4 linked regions of the Homo sapiens genome follow. The protein of the gene in region 1 purifies or fractionates together with the protein of each later gene. This does not show direct contact. Each region holds a gene or a part of one and is shown on either strand. Other genes may lie near its edges.

What was found. Proteins that work in one complex are often made in the same cells at the same time.
Region 2: the proteins of FBN2 (region 1) and ZNF74 purify together in Homo sapiens (co-immunoprecipitation; one large-scale study listed by IntAct). This does not show direct contact.
Region 3: the proteins of FBN2 (region 1) and EMID1 purify together in Homo sapiens (co-immunoprecipitation; one large-scale study listed by IntAct). This does not show direct contact.
Region 4: the proteins of FBN2 (region 1) and ELSPBP1 purify together in Homo sapiens (co-immunoprecipitation; one large-scale study listed by IntAct). This does not show direct contact.

The regions. Positions count from the first base shown.
Region 1 is NC_000005.10:128,531,746-128,535,245, forward strand, and holds part of FBN2 (fibrillin-2 precursor), read right to left. Parts: intron 1-3,500.
Region 2 is NC_000022.11:20,397,151-20,400,650, forward strand, and holds part of ZNF74 (zinc finger protein 74), read left to right. Parts: intron 1-2,444; exon of another isoform or gene 2,445-2,540; intron 2,541-3,481; coding exon 3,482-3,500. UniProt on the Homo sapiens protein: May play a role in RNA metabolism.
Region 3 is NC_000022.11:29,208,896-29,212,395, reverse strand, and holds part of EMID1 (EMI domain-containing protein 1 isoform 1 precursor), read right to left. Parts: intron 1-3,500.
Region 4 is NC_000019.10:47,993,380-47,997,431, forward strand, and holds the start of ELSPBP1 (epididymal sperm-binding protein 1 precursor), read left to right. Parts: upstream 1-1,252; 5' UTR 1,253-1,432; intron 1,433-4,052.

The DNA of each region.
Region 1 (3,500 bases):
ACACATATTTACTGGCTTTAAAAGGTCTAAAAGAACTTTCACCAAACAGTACAATGGATCTCACTGCATGATGGGCTTATGTATGGATTATTACTTTTTTAATAAACAGTTAAAGCTTTGCAATAAGGAAAAAAAAATTGCATAATCCTAAATCTTTAATTGTCTTATCAATACAGGTTGTCTCTTTCATTAAAGACTGAGAGTTTAAAATGCAGAATTCACCCAGAGAAGACAGCCTTGATTCTAAGTAGTTGGGAGGGTTGCAGGAATAGAGAAAATACAGCCCACTATGCAAAAGCCTTCACAGGAGACAGACAACATGAAATTGGCTGAACCAGAGGCTCCAGTTCTAATGACTTGGCCAAGCCTCAAGGGTTCCACACACATTCCTTCCAGGCTGGTATCTGACCTACCCTGTGATCAATCTTTGGTCCCCTCAATAATTCCCTCTCCTTCCTACAGCCTTTCTCCTTCCATATTATCTCCACAACCTAGCGTATTCCTACTGCTCAGAAAAGCTACTGTGGCATTTTGATGGTGGGGAGAGTCAAAGCCTCCTGCAGCTGTGACCTCCAATGAACAGAAAGGTATGAGGGTCATCACAGCAAAGAATGTTAGGCTCACTGACACAATACATTCCACAGATACTCCACACTTGTAGCCAAGTACCTTCGAATGGGAAGTCTCTCCCATGTTTAGAGACAGTTCATTTAGGAGCTGAGAGATTTCTCTCTATAACCATAATTGAGTTCTCTCTTTCGGCACAAGGGCTGTGTACTTTAATGCTCATGCCATGACTGGATATATAAAGACAAGAAGAAAGTCTGGAAATGCTCTGAAACTGGCTGTAGTTAGGGAAAGGTCCCACAACTTTCAAAGAGATTTGGGACCCTCAACAATGAAAAAAGCATTTCCTGCAGAAGTAAACTAACTCACTAATTGTTTTTCTTCTCCAAGATGCCTTCTGATATCCATATATTACTACTAGCATTAGTACTTCTTATAAATGAAAACAGTGGGCTGGGTATGGTGGCTCATGTCTGTAATCCCAGCACCTTGGGAGCCTTAGGCAAATGGATCACTTGAGCCTAGAAGTTGGAGATCAGCCTGGGCAGACCCCAACGCTACGAAAATTTTTTTAAAAATTAGCCTTGCACATTGGCATGTGCCCATAGTCCCAGCTACTCAGGAGGCTGAGGTCAGAATGCAGCTTGAGCCCGAGAGGTCAAGGCTGCAGTGAGCTGTGATCATGCCACTGCATTCCAGTCTGGATGACAGCCAGATCCTGTCTCAAATTAATAAAAAAAGAAAAAGTGAATAGTGTCAAATACTGTGATGTTAAGATAAAAATATTTTAGGCAAGAATATGTTTCCTGCCATGGAGTTGACTCTTACTTCTTAAAATGTACTACAGTTTCTGATCACCAGTAACTCTCCAATGACAAATGTGCATTAAAACATTGTTTTATTTCAAAGTTTCCTCCTCCCCAGAAGGCCAATATTTAGTCTAGGCTTAAGAGAGGAGACCCAAAGTACCTCCACCCGGGTTCCAAACCAAATGAAGGTTTGATGGGCTGGAGACTGAGCATTCTCAGGCATTTACCTGTCGTGGATACAGGTATATACTCTGTATCTGTGAGCCAATGAGAAGCAAGAATGCTGAGGCCCTTTTGCCCCACAACAGCCTCAGACTATGGTACACTTACTGAATACGTCCCTCCCACAATTACTAAAACTATGAGACCTAGAAATACCAGAGGGAGAGGGAGACAGGACCTAGGGGCTGAGACTTCAGTGATGCTGTGAGAAGTCACATGGCCAGGTAAAGAATACATAGTACCCAAAAGGTCTGAAGTTTAGTTGTCACTCTGCCATTGATCTGCTATGAGCTCCAGAAAAACCCACAGCCTTTCTGGGTTCAGTGTTTTCATTTGGTAGCATAACATAAAGGAATTATACCGGAATGCTCTGATGTTTCCTCAGGTCTCAAATGTTATTTAGTCCAGCCAACCTCATCCCACTCTTATTATATTGATCAAAATACTGTTCATAGCATAATTTCACAATAAATAAATTAATAAGCAAATTGTTTCATTGCTTCATGTTCTAAGAAGATTAAAAAAAAAAAGGTGAGAAAGTCAATTCCGTACTTTTGGAAATGAATATTTGGAAGTTTGGAAGTACTTCAGTAATTTTTCTAGGCTACAACTAAGCACAATACCAACAAAACATAGAGACTCAAATCAAAATGCATTAGGTTTCCAGAACTTGGAGAATTACAGTTTCTTTTTAATATCTTCTCCTTATAAAGCCTGTCAAACACTAAAATTCTGTTGACCATTTTTTATTTTTCTATATTAAAAGAATGCTGAGGTACAAATGTATGAGAAAATTAATATTTGGTTTTTATTTATTTGTATTTTATTTATTTTCTTTTTTGTAAATGGTCTCAGATACTTTCTTTTGCTAAATGGTGTGATACAGATAAATCCAATAAATATAATAATTTACTTAATTCATTATCATCAGGAAGGCCTGGAATTAAAATTCTTGATTTTGAGTTTATAACGGTTTCATTTCACTTATTACCTCTACATATGATCATTTTAAATGTCAGACTAATTGAACTACTGAATTGAATGCAGGCTATTAGCATTAAATGAGACTCATGCAATAGAATATAAAGGTATTACACTGTCCCTATTTTGTGCACTGTTTAATAATCTTAGGTACTTAGAATTTTTAGATGTGTTTCTAATAAATATTTTTGTAGATACGTCTTGACACAAGTGTTATAAATGTTTCTTACAGATATAAAGATCATTTCAAAGTTTACTCTCATAGATTTCTGATACGTGTAAATTCCAATGTAGCTCATAACCATCCAAATATTTCAAGTCTCAGAAATGCAGATTACAATAGTCACTGTTACCCTGAGATTTTCAAAGCTGATTTTCTACCAGTGATCAGTGGGGCCATACATATATTTCTACTGCAAATATTCTGGAAGGCTCTGCTCTCTGGAATTCCCATTCCACACTGATCCAATAAAATCTGACTTTACAGATTTTCAACACGTACCATGAACCAATCCCTCCTCCTCGGCTGCTCTCCAACTCAATAATGGCAGTCACATTCATTACATTTAGTGAGTCAGACTTTCCGCCGTGCCTAAGTCACTCCCAGCTAGTATGGCAGGTGTGTGATGAGTGACGTTAGCTGTTTCAGGAGTCTAAAAAACCGTGTAAGTTTAAAGCAGCCATGGTAATGCCCTACTGGCCTGAAAGAGTAAACCCACCCTCCATTAATGCCTCACATATGACTTCTGTGTTGGAGAGAAAAGAATGCAGAACATGTTCTTTTAAAAAATAAAGCAAAGGCTTATTATAATCAGAGGATTTGTTCAAAATATTTATAAGTCACTTTAAATAACACAGTTGTTTCCTATTTTTGCCATTGGAAATAGTGGGATGTTAAGGTAGAAAAAATAAGAAGAAATT
Region 2 (3,500 bases), on another chromosome or scaffold:
ACTGCAGCCTTCAACTCCTGGGCTCAAGCAAATCCCCCACCTCGGCCTCCTAAGTAGTTGGGACCAACGTGTGTGCCCCCACACCTGGCTTGGAGCCTTGTTTCAGCCCATTTTCTCCTTCCCTCGGCTATCGTCATCCTTCATGCCTGCATGCCTCAGTTAGGGGTGTGTTCTCAGCATTTGTCCTCATCTCTACCTCCTCATCTGAAATCCAGTGTTTTGGGGGGTAAGGTTTTATTGAGGTGTAATTTATATACAGCACAGTTGTACAATTTTAAGTATACAATTTGATGAGGTTGAGCAAACGTATACAGTTGTGTAACCAGCACCACAATCATGATATGGGACGTTTCCATGACCCAAAAATGTCCTCATGCCCCTGTGCATTCAGTGGTCTCCCCTCTCCCCTTGGTAACCACTATAGTTTTGCTGTAGATTTTCCTCTTTAAGGATTTCATATGGAATTTATATTATGTGGTCTTTTGTCTCTGCTTTATTTCGCTTAGCATATGCTTTTGAGTTTATCCATATTGTTGTGTGAATCAGTAGTTTGTTCCTTTTTATTGGTGAGTAATATTCCATTTGTATTAGTCTGCTAGGGTTGCCATACAAAGTATGGCAGGAGGGCTTAAATGACAGAAATGTATTTCCTCACAGTTCCAGAGGCAAGAAATCTGAAATCAAGGTGTCAGCAGGGTTGATTTCTTCTGAGGCTTCTCCTTGGCTTGTAGATGGCCACCTTTTCCCCGCATCTTCACATGGTCTTACCTCTTCTATGTCTGTGTCCAAATTTCCTCTTCTTATGAGGACACCAGTTATATTGGATCAAGGCCCACTGCATTGAATTCATTTTAACTGAATTACTTCTTTAAAGAACCTCTCTCCAGGCCGGGTGCAGTGGCTCACGCCTGTAACCCCAGCATTTTGGGAGGCTGAGGTGGGTGGAACACTTGAGGTCAGGAGTTCAAGACCAGCCGGCCAACATGGTGAAACCCTGTCTCTACTAAAAATACAAAAATTTAGCTGGGCGTTAGTTCTCGCCTGTAGTCCTAGCTACTCAGGAGGCTGAGGCAGGAGAATCTCTTGAACCCAGGAGGCAGAGGTTGCAGTGAGCTGAGATTGCACCACTGTACTCCAGCCTGGGTGACAGAGTGAGACCATGTCTCAAAAAAAAAAAAAAAAAAAAAAAACCTCTCTCGGAGTTACCAAGCATTGAGACATAAGAATTTGAGGTGAGGGGTATACATTTCATCCCATTGCTCCATTGGATGGAGCAAACTGCTCCGCAGTTTGCTTATCCATTCACCAGCCGATGGACATTTAGGTTACTCATAGGCTTTTGCTATTACAAATAAACCCGCTATAAATATTTGAGTACACGTATGGCTGTGCATTTTAATTTCTCTTGCATAAATACCTAGGTGTGAAATTGCTGAGCCATATAGTAAATATATGTTTGTCAATTTTATTGATCTTTTCAAAAAACAATTTTTTTGTTTTATTGATTTTTCTCTATTTTCTGTTTTCCATTTCAGAGATTTCTGATCCTTATTATCTCCTTGGTGTCTTAAGATTGAAACTTACTTTACTTACTTTAGTGTCTTAAGATTGAAACATAGATATTGATTTGATACCTTTTTTCCTCATATAGCATTCAGCGTTGTAAATTTCTAAGCACTGCCTCAACTATATCCTACAACTTTTGTTATGTCACATTTTCACTTTTATTCAGCTCAAAATAGCTTCTAATTTCCCTAGTGATGTATTCTTCAGCCATATGTTATTTCAGAATGTGTTGTTTCATTTCCTAATATTTAGGGCATTTTCCAGATAACTTTCTATTATGGATTTCTGATTTAATTCTATTGTCATCAAAGAATGAACTTTGTGTGATTTAAAGTCTTTCAAGTCTACCAAGATTTATTTTATTTCCCAGAGTGTGGTTTATCTTGGTAAATGTTCCACATGCCCTTGAAAAAATATGTATTATGCCTTTGTTGGTTAGAGTGTTATGTAAATATCAGTTAAGTCAAGTTGAATGATGGTGTTTTTTAATTGTTCTGTCAGTTTTTGCATTATGTATTTTGAAGCTCTTTTAGTAGATACATTTATATTTAGGATTGCTATGAGTTCTTAATGAATTAACTGTTTTATCATTATGTAATATTCTCTTTGTCTCTGATAGTCCTCTCTCTGAAATCTACTTTGCTATTACTATAGGCACTTGAGCTTTTTTTTTTTAAATTAGTATTTGCAGGGTTTATCTTTTTCTATCCTATCACTTTTAACCTATCTTTGTATGTAAAGTGGGTTTCTGTAGCTTGCTTTTTGAATTCAGTTTGACAATCTCCACCTTTTAATTGGAGTGTTTAAACTATTCGCATTTAGTGTAATTATTAATATGGTTGGATTTACATGTCCTTTTTTTTTTTTTCTTTTGACAGAGTTTGGCTCTTGTCACCCAGGCTGGAGTGCAGTGGCGCAATCTTGGCTCACTGCAACCTCCACCTCTTGGGTTCAAGCAATTCTCCTGACCTCAGGTGATCTGCCACCTTGGCCTCCCAAGTGCTGGGATTATAGGCGTGAGCCACCCCACCCGGCCTTGCTATTAGTTTTCTATGTCTTATGTCTTTTTTGTTTCTCATTTCCTCCCTTAATGACTTCTTTTGAGGTAAACACATACTGTTCTAATATACTCTTAATTCCTCTGATTTCATTAATATTTTTCACCTTTTAGTTATTTGATTGGATGCTGGACATTGTGAATTTTACTTTGTTGAGTAGGTTTTTGGAATTCCTTGTTTCTGGGATTTGTTCTGGGATGCAGTGAAATTACTTGGCATCTATTTGATCCTTTCAAGGATCAAAGCAAGTCTGGAGTTGGGTGGTGGCCAGGATGCCCAGGCCCAGGGGGAGCAGGCAGGAAGGATTGGAAGGCAGTCAGGTGAGGACTGCAGGTAGCCTCTCTTAGTCCCTTGGGGCACAGAACTTGCTGATATATACAAGGTTTCCTTCCTTAGAGTGTAATAACAGTTTCTAGTCTGGGATCGGATCCTTTTGCGTTACTGAGCTTTGAATAGAGTTGCTGGGATTTTTGTACTATTAATATTCTCTCAAATTTTTAAGTTTGAAATTCTTGACTCCAGGAAGCATAGCATCTCACCCAGGACTTAGAGCCTGATACAACAGCCATGTACAGCCCCTGGGTCCCACCGCAAGTTGCCAGGGCCCTGTGGTGTCTATTCAGACCTGCTTTCCCAATCTAGAAGGTGGTGTGGGAATGCATGCCAATTCCCAGCCCCCCTCCCTGCCCCTGGTCCCCGAATTCAGTCATGGTCAGTGTCTACAGCACAACCTTCTGGCATGGGAGAAGGTCACCTGAGGTTAACCCTTTACTTGTAGGGTCCTTAATCAATCTCTGGCTCCTTTGGAACCATGGACACAGAATCAGTCCTGGGTGAGAACCTATATGTCATTTCAGGAATCGGTGAGTTTCAAGG
Region 3 (3,500 bases), on another chromosome or scaffold:
TGGAGGCTGAGGCAAGGAGGATTGCTTGAGGCCAAGAGTTCAAGACCAGCCTGGGCAACACGGTGAGAACCCCATCTCTATAAAAAAATTTTTTTTAATTAAAAAAAAGGGTCGGGTGCAGTGGCTTACGCCTGTAATCCCAGCACGTTGGCAGGCCAAGGCAGGTGGATCACTTGAAGATCAGGAGTTTGAGACCAGCCTGGGCAACAAGGCAAAACCTCGTCTCTACTAAAAATACAAAAATTAGCTGGGCGTGGTGGTGTGCGCCTGTAATCCCAGCTACTTAGGAGGCTGAAGCAGGAGAATTGTTTGAACCCGGGAGGCAGAGGTTGCAGTGAGCCCAGATCGTGCCACTGCACTCCAGCCTGGGCAGCAGAGCGAAACTCTGTCTCAAAACAAAAAAAACCAAAGGTGTGGTTTTGAACCTGTTAGGGTTGAATATGGAGAGTGGGGGCATAAGCCCCTTTAGAAAATTGCGGTGAATCGTGGCTCCTCTCCAGAAATACGCATAAAACTTGGTGTACAGGTTAAGGGGGTTCAGAGGCTCCTTGGAGCCTACGTGACACTCACCAGGCTGGCCCAGGGGCTTCGTGAGTGAAGGAGGGAGGGAGGAAGAGGACAATCTGGGCAGAGGACAGTCGGAAGCTCTGGAGACAGGAAAGGGGCCCTGGACACAGAATGAATACACTATGCCAGTGAGCAGATGCTCGCAAACACACAGTGCCTGCACACGCAAATGCACGCACACACATGCACACACAGGCACACAGGAGCAAATATGCATGGCAGTGAGCACGTACACACAGACACACACAGGCATATGTACACACAATGCATGGACACACATGTTCATGCATATGCACACAGATCCACACAAACACACAGATACACGCACACACATGCACACACAGGCACACAGGGCAAATACGCACTGCAGTGAGCACGTGCACACACACATAGGCATATGTACACACAACGCATGGACACACGGGCCTCCGTGTGCACACACAGATCCACATAAACACAGAGCTCCATACATGCACACAAACGCACACAGACAGGCTAAGGCAAATCCAGCAGGACACTTAATCACAGAAATGACCGTCCTCCCTGCACACAAGTCCATACCTGCAGATACAGGACTCTGTGCCCTCACACATTCACATACACACACTCATCGGCTCTGTCACATGGACATAGACAGACCAAAGCAGGCCCAGAGGGGCACACAGTCACAGTCAAACCTTCTCCCTGCAAATGCGTTCACACTTGCACACACACTGACACACCTGCACATGCACACACACACGCATGCCCTCTCGCATGGACGCATATAGGCTGAAGCTGTGATCTCTGGGCATGTCCACACACGGCCCCACAGTGCTCTCATTCATGTACATCCATGCACATGCAGGCACATGTGTACACACACACACACTTCTCACATGTACACAAACAGGTGAAGGCAGGCCCAGCAGGGTACTGTTGGCCATCTTCTCACACATATCTATACAGGCACGCACAGAGCCATCTGCCCTCACACACACACACGTGGACAACAGCCCTCACATGCCCAGCCCCCAGACTAGGCCGGGAGAGGTGGGCCTGTGATGGTCCACAATGGCCAGAGCTGTCCTTCTTTTTACCAGGGAGGAGCTAGAGAAAAAAAACAGTATTTTTCCTTCTTCTTCCTTAATTAAAATCTCTACCATTGGTGCTTGCCTGTAGTCACAGCTACTTGGGAGGCTGAGATGAGGATCGTTTCAGCTCAGGAGTTTGAGGCTGTAATGAGCTATATTCACGCCACTGCACTACAGCCTGGGCAATAGAGTGACACTTTGTCTCTTAAAAAAAATTGTTGGCCGGGCGCAGTGGCTCAAGCCTGTAATCGCAACACTTTGGGAGGCTGAGGCAGGTGGATCACCTGAGGTCGGGAGTTCGAGACCAGCCTGACCAACATGGAGAAACCCCATCTCTACTAAAAATACAAAATTAGCCAGGCATGGTGGTGCATGCCTGTAATACCAGGCAGGAGAATCGCTTAAACCCAGGAGGCAGAGATTGCGGTGAGCCAAGATCGCGCCATTGCACTCCAGCCTGGGCAACAGGAGCAAAACTCCGTCTCAAAAAAAAAAAAAAAAAAAATTTGCCATGTGGGTCCCTGCCTGGTTGCCATAATCTGGACTGTGCTTGAATCCTCTCCTTAGGAGACATGGAGCTGGTGGCCGGCTAGCCAGACCTTTTGGACAGGAGAGGACACTCATGCCATGTGGAGTTCAGGTTTAGTCCCTTGCCCCCTCCACCTGGGGATCACTAATAATTACCCCATCCCCCACCTTGAGGACCCCAGCCCCAGGACTCCTAGCATCAGCCCGAGCTCCTCCACAGGGTCCCAGCCTGGCCCTGCCACCCTCCTGCACCTCTATCCACCTTCCAGGGGTAGCAGGAGGCTCTTTCTAAAGTGCAGACCTAATGTTGCCACCACCCACTGTGGAGTCCGCAGCCCACCATGACTCCCTATAGCCCTGCAAGCGCTGCCCTTCACTTCTTATTCTGCTCACCTCTCCTGCACACTCATGCAGCCCCTCCTCCCACCTCTGATCTTAGCATATGAAGATCCCTCTGCCTGGAAAGCCCCTCCCTCTTGCTCCAGCCAACTCTTATTCATCCTTTGGGTCTCAGCCCTCAGGCCCAGGCAGGGGTTGGGCACCACCCATTAGCCACTCACAATAGCCCTGGGCTTTACTCACTCACGCAGGTGCTGGAGGAGGGCATGAGCTGGGACCAAGTTTGTGTAGGGCTCAGCCTGAGGACGCTCAGCGATGTTTGTTGAATGACTGAATGATGGAGAACAGGCAGCAGCTCCGGCCAGAGGAGCTGGGACCCGAGGTTTCCACAGATGAAGGGACCCATCCCCATGTGCTCCATCCCTGCAGCCCCTGGGGGCTTCCTTCCCTGGGGTGTGGTCATTGATAAGCTGCCCAAGAGCTGGATGAGGCTGGGCAGTGGGGTTGGTGAGGGCAGGGGCTGGGAAGAGGCGGCACTTCCCTCCTGGGCCCAACACTTCTGCCCACTCAGCACCTCCAGGCCCCCAGAGGCCTCCAGGAGGGGAGAAACAGGCCAGACCAGCTCAGCCTGGCACCGGCCACTCCCACAAAGGCCCCCCACCTACACCCACACTCCACCCCCTGCCACGAGGGGCCCAGGGGACTTTGTCTCTGTAGGGCCCAGGGCTGCGATCCGGAACAGTGATAGGGGCTAATTGCAGGAGGCAGCCAAGCGGGCCCGGGGCCAAGGGCTGTGATGAAAAGGAGAAGAAAGAAAGGACCGGGCGGGCAGGGGTGGTATGATGAGAGCCAGAGCCCCGCAGTAGGGGCGAAGTTCCAGTCCTGGCTCTGCTGCTTCCTACATCGGTGACCTTGGACAAGGCCCTGACCCTCTCTGGACCTCATTTTGTCCATCTGCAAATGGGGACAGCAGAATTTCCTCCAGCGGGGGAA
Region 4 (4,052 bases), on another chromosome or scaffold:
TTTTGGAAATGACTGTTGCCTTCACTTATTTCTAACATTTCTTTTTTCTTTTCTTTTTTTTTCTTTCTTTTCTTTTTTTTTTTTTTTTACATGGAGTCTCACTCTGTTTCCCAGGCTGGAGTGCGGTAGCGTGATCTTGGCTCACTGAAACCTCCACCTCCTGAGTTCAAGCGATTCTCCTGCCTCAGCCTCCCAAGCAGCTGGGACCAGAGGCGTGTGCCAGCAGACCCAGCTAATTTTTGTATTTTTACAAAAATACAAAAATTTTATTTTTGGGGTGTGCTGGGGTGTGCCAGCAGACCCCAGCAGAGATGGGGTTTCACCATGTTGGCCAGGCTGGTCTTGAATTCCTGACCTCAGGTGATCCACCGGCCTCGGCCTCCCAAAGTGCTGGGATTACAGGCATGAGCCACTGTGCCTGGCACCTCTTTCCTTCTTGTTTGAACATCTTTTACAGATCTTGATTATATTCTACAACATAATGGGTGGTCTCTGGCACACTGCCTTTTTGCTATTATTATTGATACTTTATGAAGACCAAGTGTGCTAAGACATTGTACATTTGCGGAGCCACCCATTCTCCCCTTTAACATCTTTGTTTCATGTCACTCTTCACTGCATTGCATGTCATCAGTTTCCCATTCTGCAAGTATTTCTTCAATCAGTTTCCCTTTATTATTAGCCATACGAGATCCAAAAATCCCTTAGCAGGTTAATGTGGACTGGGTGCAGTGGCTCATGCCTGTAATCCCAGCACTTTAGGAGGCCAAGGTGGGTAGATCACCTGAGGCCAGGAATTTGACACTAGCCTGGCCAACCTGGTGAAACCCTGTCTCTCCTAAAAAATACAAAAATTAGCTGGGTGTGGTGGCATGTGTCTGTGGTCCCAGCTACTTGGGAGGCTGAGGCAGGAGAAAGGCTTGAACCCGGGAGGTGGAGGTTGTGGTAAGCCAAGATCATACCATTGCACTCCAGCCTGGGCAACAGAGCAAAATTCTATCTAAAAAAAAAAAGAAAGAAAGAAAAGAAAAGAAAATAGTAGGGCTTTTTCATTGTTCAGCTGAAACCTCTCCAGCTCCTCATAGCTGAATTTCTGGGAACGTTCCCTCCTCTGTTCATTGATATTCTTGTCCCTGACCCCAGCCCCCGCAAGGCCCCTTCTGTGTACACTTGACTGAATTTTATGGGCCTCGTGGATATGCATGGGCTTATCTCCAGACATCATAAATTAACCACAGCTGATCTCATCCAGACTGCCTTCTGACAGTAACCACTGATGAAGAACCCTCCTTTGAGAAGCTGCCTTTGTGTCCTACAGACAGGCTGGGGCCAAAGCCATTCAACCAATCCCCAGATAATCCAGAGCTCTTGGGAGCAGAACCTTAAAGAGAGATCGTGGAGAGAGCCAGGGCCCAGAAGAACTCTCTCAAAGGTACATTTTGACCCGGAAACTTGGGAGGGTGTGACAAGTGGGGTCTTAGGGCCCCCATAGCAAAGAAGGAAGGTCTAGAGCATCATGGTGCACTAGAAATATAATACGAGCCACATAAATCATTGTAAGTTTTATAGCAGAAGCACTTTAAAAAACTAAGAAGAGTGCAATTTATTTTAATAACATGTTCTGTGGAATCCATGTATATCTAAACGATTATCATTTCAACACATAATGAATACAAATAATTATTAATGAGATACTTTACATTTTTTCCCTATACTTTGTCTTCAGAATCAATAGGTATCTTACACTTACAACATAGAACAATTTGAACTTTCCCATTTCAAGTGCTCAAGAACCAGAAGTAGCTGGTGGCTGCCATATTGGTTCTGGAAGGGGACAGCCAGAGAAAGTAGGGAAGGTGGTCTTGTGGGTGAGGTCCTTTCTCTGTTAATAAACTCAAAGAAATGGGTTAAACCAGATTCTATGAATGATGTAATGCTAAGGAAGGTTGCCTGAATCCCAAGCTTAGGGAAGAAACTGAAGAAAAGGGAACAAGTTACCTGTTAAGAGACTGGGTGAATTACTTATTAAATTCTTGGTAGTGGATTAAAATCTTCATGGTTCTGTCAATGTTTGGACCATTTCTCCAAGGTAAGGCTTACTCTCCCTATTTTAGGAAAAAGAAAGTTGAGATTCAAAAAGAGCTTACTGAGATCCTGTTGCTTCTCCCTCCAAAGGCAGCCTAAATATGTAATAGAAGAGGTGTGTGTGTGCGCCTAGAGGTGGAGGGAAGGCTTACACTGAAGTTTTGTTTCAGATCTGGGGTCATTTGCTGCTGAGAAGCAGAAGGACTCATTATTTTGAAGGTACACTATACTTCAGTGACTTTACAGCCCCATGTGTGCCTGTAATTATTCACAATGGCTTCTATAGTTTAGGTTTTATCTCCACTAAACAGATAGGAATACTGACTTGGAGTTCAGAGAGGTGAAATGACCTTCCCAAGGCCACCCAGTTGAAACATGGGAGAGGTAGGATTTGAACCCTGGTTGGTTGGGTGCTATTATCTTCTCACCGCTCCACTGTGAAATTATTTTGGCTTAAGAGAACGAGAGGGCAGAGGCTGTGGGCTAAGCTGCCTCTTGGGCACCCTATCAGGGCCTTAATACTACCAGTTGTATCTGCCATTATTTTCCATGTTGGGTGGTAGATATTGGTGCCAATGTCTTATCTATAGCTGTTTGAAGACAGCTATCATATCTGGTTCCTCTTGGTACCCACCACATTTCCTTATAGATGATAGGGTTCTTGAATACTCATTGGATGGGTGGTGGATTGAAGGAAGATTAAAGAATGAAAGGAAGGATGGGTGGATAGAAGAATGGATGAACAGTGAAAGAATGGATGGATGGAAGGATGGATGAGAAGTGGATGAATAAACTGAAGGATGGATGAAACGATTTATCTCTGATTGTTGAAGGCAGAAATCATGTATGGTTCCTCTTGGTACTTGACACAGTTTCTTATGGATGGTGGGTTTCTTAAATACTTATTTGATGAATGATTGATGGATGGATGATAAGAGGATGGATTCAATGAATAATGGATGAATAGAAGGATAAATGAATGGACAGATGAGTGGATAGATAGATGGCTGGTGAAAGATGGGCAAAAGGATGGGAGAATTGATAGACAGATGGAAGAATGGGTGGAAGGATGAATGGGTGGATGAATTGATGGATGGATGTATGGATGATGGAAGAAGATAGATGAAAAGATGGATAGATGGAGGAATGGATGTAAGAATGGGTGGAAGGATACATGGGTGGATGGGTGGATGGATGGATGATGAAAGAAGAGTTGGTAAAGGGATGGTTGATGGATGGATGGATGAGGGAATATTAACAATGAAGAGTATCATTAAGCAGAGAAAAAATTTCTCAGAAGGTAATATTTTCAGGAAAGTTTGAAAGCCAATAAATAACAAAAGTAAAAGAAGAGAATTAGAACATTCTCAAAATGTTTGCTTAATTAATTAATTACTGCCGGTCTAGCATGGTGAATGAATGTTATCATCATCATCATCGTCATCATTAATGGCCAACATTTATTGTGAGTTATCTCTATAGCACGCATTGTCTTAAGCATTTTGTATCTTTCATCTAATTCAATCCTCCCAACAACTCTATGAAGTAGAACTGTTTATTAGCATCCCCATTTTATAGAGGGGTAAGCTGTGAAGTACCTTATTAAATGTCACTCTGCTAGGCACCACTGAAACATCCACACAGGTTTTTAATTACTGGCATGCCAGTGGAATTGGAATGCCAACACCAAGAGGCCCCGGCACAGCGCTTTGCTCTATAGATGTTCAATAAATTTGGTAAGTCAATAACTACCTCATAAAATTAATCCATTCCTAAGACAGCCATCTCATTGTTGCAGATTTTTCATTTTGTGATTTTAAACTGCCTCCTATTGCTTTACTCAGGGTGTTCTATCTTTTTTAAAAACCATTTTAACTCTGCATGTTTTCATGTGAGCATATGTGCATGCATATACCTGTATATGTGCACATATGATGTGTGTATATTACACATGCCTGTATACATAT